Regions from separate parts of the Homo sapiens genome. Here region 1 is linked to region 2. Evidence: fine-mapped expression QTL. A gene starts in region 2. The other region holds a variant in brackets. All regions are shown on one strand. Distances are between the middles of the regions.

Region 1 (2,920 bases), 27 kb before region 2:
AATGGGTAATATATCCAGGCATCTCTTGGTTGGCCCACATGGAACTTCCTGGATGCATGGCACAAATTAATATGTTCTTTCGGTTACACACGGGTGCAAGGTCAGATAGTTCACACTCTTTCAAAGCCTGGGAATTTCCTTCATTTGGAATCCCATTGGGCCCAATCTGTTTTCTATCGGTACAACAACTTAGCTTCTATTTTCCTTCCTCAACGGGACATCAAAGATGTTATTTAGCATGTGGAAGCTGTAACAAATTATACAAAGAAAGCTTTTAATAATAGCCACAAGAGAATCTCTCTCTGAAACACAGAAGTCACTCTCATGAGAAAGTCTGTCCTCCAAAAGCACATGGCTTTAGACGTGCTCACTGTTACACAAGGGGGGCTTGTGCAATCATAAAAACTGAATGCTATGTTTATATTCCTGATGAATCAGATAACATCACTAAATTAATGACTGATATGAAAACCCAAATAACCACTCTTTCAGACCAAACCCCTCTTTTGAATGACTGGTTTTGGGCAGGTTTGGATGAAGCTAGTTCTTGGTTTAGGTATTAAATGCATATGTTGTTTACTGCCCTGCTTTGCCTTTACTGTTGTCATGGCAGCTCCAATGGAGCCAATGCACTATTGCTAAAGCTATACAATATCAAGCATCCTCCATCTAGGTGCAGGGACTATCCCAGAAGAGGAGGGCACATGAGATTGTAAGGACCAGTTTTATAGGGTGGAGTATAAGAGAATATCCTGTTGTATGGCAAGAGTGATACCACCTTGAAGTGAAACTATCATAATGACCAATGTTTGACTCCTGTAGACCAAGGCATTCTGCAGCAAGGTCAAGAAACAAGGACTGCAGCATAGATAACCCCTCATAAAGATGCTTACCTAGCTTTTCCACTAGTCATGAGTTTTGCCGAGGGTCGGAGACATGACCAGTGACACGTTTCACCAAAACAAATTGCTATGTAAAAAATACTTTCTGGAGGGTGGGTACAGGGATCTACCATCTCTCAGCTTCCCAAGACATGGCTTCTTTTCATAAGTCCCTATTAAATGTTTCTTTCTGAGAAATTGGATTTGTGAGTCTTTTTCTTTGGCTTCTCAGCAAACTCAGCCTTTGGGGATAGGTTTGCACAGAGCTGCTCATTGTGGAACAGTGAACTGGAGCAAGTGTCAGTCACCCAGGCTCTCCTTGGAGAGATAGGTGCCTCCTTATGGAACAGGAATTAAAAGAAATTAAGGAGTGTGTAAGCAAAAACTCAGTTGTATGTAAGAAAACCCAATTCCGCCTGAGAAAAAGGAAGAGTTGGAGTCCTTTAAAAATTAACTGCCTGTTTTTCTGTGGCTAGTGAACCTTATCTCTCCTCCTTTCCCAGGCATTGTGAAAATCCTGTTTCCCTAGCTGTGCAGCTGCAAGGTCACTAGACAGATAAACTCAAGTTGCAAAACATG[T/C]TTTTCTTTGAAAAGTAAGAAATGATGTAATGCATATCTCAACTGATTGAATAACTGCGTTTTTTTCTCACTTCTGTAGTATGCCTCCCCCTGCACAGATCTCTCCCTGCCCCATGAAATGCTTAAAATGTAACTTAACTCTTTGTTCAGGGCTCAATCCTTTGGATGTTAATCTGACTGGGCTGGTGCACCTAAATAATTGATAAATATCCTCCTGAACTCCATCGATCTCTCTAATTCCTTAAAAATCCTGCAACACTTACACTAAAAAGAGCCATTGCTAAGTGATTTTACTGCCGCTTAGAAATTTCAATCTCAAGGGCTGGGGTTCCCAGAGCGGGAGATTATGTCAAACTGCAACTCATGGTGCCAGCACCCCTTGACGAACACAAACCACTGTTTTGTACTTCAGATCATTCTGATATTGATACTATGCTTTGAAACAAAATGTCAGAAGGCTTGGGAATGATAGTAAGAGGAGTTTAAACATAAATAAATAAACAATTTTTTAAATAAGCAAAATGCCAGGGGACACTAAGGAGCAAGGGCAAGGCCATCAACAGTAAAAATTGTGCCCAAATGCAGAGAGCAGGCTTGTGGTAGTCTCCTTGTTCAGGAGCCCAGAAATTCTATAGCTTACTTCTATGGAGATGCCTTTCCATGCTGTCAGTGTTTTGATGTGTCATTGCTATCCACAAGTCTGGAAGAGCAATCTCTGCTGTTGTCCCAGATCATTTGTCCCTCTTACCGGAAGGACTCCTATTAAACAAGCCTCCATCCCACTCCTTCAGGATAATAAAATTCCATACTTATCAGAAAGGGGAGAAGAAACAATTTATAAGGTACCTATACTGTGCCAGGAACTGTGTTAGGTGCATTCACCAACATTTTTTTAAAAATTTAATCCTGATTTTATTGACTTGGAAAAATCCCAGCTTAAACTGGGTATGAGGAATGTGGCCTGGAGATAAATTAACCAAGGAATTCAGTCTTCACAAACCATTGGGAGGATGGCTGTCTGCCCTTTAAAAAATGCTTTTTGTTAAGAAATGACACTTTTGTCCCAGCAGAAGCATTCATTTCATTCATTCATTCATTCATTCACTCAGCAAACATTGACTGAATGCCTTCTGTGTGTCAGCTTTAGTGGGCAAAACAGAAGTCCCTACCCTGTGGAGCTCATATCTTGGCACGGTGAAAAGGCATAACAGATTGACAAGTCATATGACATATGAGGAGGTGCTAAGTGAGATGCAAAAAATAGAAATGAGTAGAGTTTTGGGAGTGAGGGGTGGGTTGGGTGCAATTTGACATACAGTAATCGAGATATCCCTCACTGAGAAAGTGACACCTGAGGAAAGACTTGAGGCAGGTGAGGGAGAAGCCAGGTGGACAGCTGGGGAAGAGCCTTGCAGGCAGAGGCAAAGGCCCTACTGTCAGGGAGTGCTTGATTTGTTCAA
Region 2 (2,920 bases):
CTGCATGAAGAAGCTGCACAGAAAACCACTCACCCTCACCCCTAGAAAGTACTCTTCCCAGCCCCTAGTAACCACTATTCTACTCTCCACTTCTATAGGATCAAATTTTTTAGCTTCCACATGTGAGTGAGAACATGCAGTATTTATCTTTCTATGCCTGGCTTAGTTCACTTAACATAATGTCTCCCAAGCTCATCCATGTTGCCACAAATGACAAATTTTGTTCTTTTTAAATCAGTAAATAGTATTCAATTGTGAATATATACCACATTTTTCATCCATCTTTCTGTTGATGAACATTTCGGGTGATCCATATTTTGGCTATTGTGAATAGTGCTACAGTAAACATGAGAGTGCAGAGATCTCAACAAGATTCAGTAACCTTACTACTGAGTATATATCCAAAGTATTTTATTCATTTTGATGCTATTATAAATGGAATAGTTTCCTTAGTTTCCATTTTTGGATTGTTTATTGTTAGTGTATATAAATGCAACTGATTTTTGTGTATTGATTTCCTGTCCTGCAACTTTGCTCAATTTGCTTGCTTATTAGTTCTATTGGGGTTTTGTGTGTGTGTGTGTGCATGGTATCTTCAGGTTTTTCTACATATAAGATTTTATCATTTGCAAACAGACAAAATTTTACTTATTTATTTCCAATTTGGATCCCTTTTACTTATTTTTCTTGCTTAATGTTACTGCAGCTTTCTATGCAGGAAACGAGGATTTGAACAGTGATGGAGAGATGAGTAATGGTTCGATTTGGAACATATTTTATGGGCAGAACAAATGGAACTTGTTGGCTCAGAAGTGGGTGGTGGAAGAAAGAGGGAAGTTAAAAGTGACTTCTAGGTTTATGGATGGATGAACTGGCTAAATTATTGTGGTGCCATTTGCTTAGACAGGGTAGATGGGGGGATGCAGGACTAAGAGAGGAAGAGAAAAGCTCCACCTGGGCCACATTAAATTTGGCCATGATTGTGGATCAGATAGGTAAAAGCAAGAGAAGGAGGGAAGAAGTCAGAACACAGACCTCTGGGGAAAGCTCACACGTAGAAAAGGGGTGGAAGAAGAGGCATCAGAAAGAGAGGCAAAGAAGAGCAATCTGAGGGGTAGAAAAAGAACCAGGAAAGTCAGAGAAAAAAGGGAAAAGTTTCAGGAAAGTGGCAATGGTCAACTATGCAAACAAGAGGGGAAGGAAGGTGAGGACTGAGAAAGGATTTTTTATGTAAGCAACAAGGAGGTTTTTGGTGACCTCTGACAGAACATTTTCAGCAGACTGGATAAGGTCTCTGCCTGAGTGCAAGTGAGCTGAAAATGCAAGTGAGTGAGGGAAGTGCTTTAAAAAAGTCTAAAGTGCTATGTGTGTAAGGCAATGTTGCTATTTCTGTTGCCATGGAAACAGAAACCATTTAGGAGAACTAAAAGCCACTTAAAATTCCTGACTCTAACCCATCATATCCGCTTGATCTCTTGAGAAAGATAATGACAAAAAACCAGTCATTAGAGGGGCAGGGCAATTTTAGGTTTCTTCTTTTTAGACATAGCCCCTAACTGGAAATTTTCACCCTTCTTGAGAAGGGAGCTTGCACTAACATCTACAATGGCTTCTAAAAAGCACAGATGACCTGCTACACTTCCTGACTTGCTTGCTATTGGTTGGCACTGTTCATAAATATAATTTGCTCTTTCACTTTTCTTTGAAATGAGCAACCTGAATTACTCGGAGGAGAAAGGCAGGAGAGATAGAGGCAGCAGAAGCCAGGGCAGCTGAAAGACAGAGACCTTCAGGTGGGCATTTTAATCTTTGTTTTGTTAATTCAGTGTTGAGCATCATGACTTGATGATCACATAATAGTCAGAGGAGTAATTTTTTAAAAGTAAATTTGTTTTGTTCTACTATAAATGTTATTTTCCTATCATGTACATGGTAGTTTAAAAAATACTGTGGAAGTATAAAAATGTTGAAAGAAGCCAAATTCTCCACCAAAATAGCCTCTATTGATATTTTGGGGATCGTCCCTTTGTGTGTGTGTGTGTGTGTGTGTGTGTGTGTGTGTGTGTGTGTGTGTGTGTGTGAGTGTGTGTGTGTGTGTGTGTATGCACATATAACTTTAGTTTTCATAGTTGCGTCCCTACACTATGGACAAGTTTGTATTCATTTCCTCCATATCAGTCTATGGTTTTTCCATGTTGCTGTGAATTCTTTGTAATCATAAATTAAAGCTGCTGCATATTATTGCATTGAGGAACTTTACTATACTTCCTCCATTTTTGGCTGTTATCCTCTTTTTCATAGTTTGGGTCCTTCTATTATATAAGATATATTTTTTCCATTCAGTGTCTTGTTTTAGGGGTAGAAGAAGTTAAATCTGAGCACATATATTTCAATGGTTTTGCTCAGAGGCACAATGAGAATGAAAGAGTATGTGAGATCATGAGCATATAATCTGTTCCTTACCCCACTGGGACCCTAATCAGTGTTTCTCAACCCTGGCTGCACATCTGGCCAGAATCACCCGACTCTGAGGAGATTAGAAAATTACCCCTAGAATAACTGAAGCTTAACTTTTGGAGATCAGTGAGTCATCTGCAGTATTTTATCTTGTTTTCCAGAAACTTCTCAGGTGGTTCTAATGGGTGGTCAGCATAAAAACAGATGACCTAGGTCATTCAAAATATTTTTCTGTCTCTGAAATATACCTGAGAGTAATATGTATTAGGAGAAAGGGAGGTATAATTTAAGGCAAGCCAACCAAATCTCCCTTTCAACACTACATAAATAATGCAAATTATAAAATAATTTGTGGGAAACATAAGACTTCTAGAAATTTCTATCATCTACTCAGCCACATAAACTCTTGAGATAAGAATCTACTTGTGTTTCGATTTACTAATGTTTTAAAGAGATGGATTTG

Evidence for each region. PIP is the estimated chance that this variant, and not a neighbour inherited with it, causes the effect.
Region 1: its variant is the best candidate, but not a certain one, in a credible set for the expression of CYSLTR2 in whole blood (TOPMed, PIP 0.86).

What each region holds. Positions count from the first base shown.
Region 1 is chr13:48,624,771-48,627,690 of GRCh38, forward strand. No RefSeq gene overlaps it. Among named protein-coding and RNA genes, the nearest start is that of CYSLTR2, 28 kb to the right of the region's middle. The variant T/C (reference allele first, on the strand shown) is at 1,461.
Region 2 is chr13:48,652,225-48,655,144 of GRCh38, forward strand. CYSLTR2 (cysteinyl leukotriene receptor 2) reads left to right here and starts at 1,705. Exons shown (of 5, transcript NM_001308476.3): 1 at 1,705-1,793.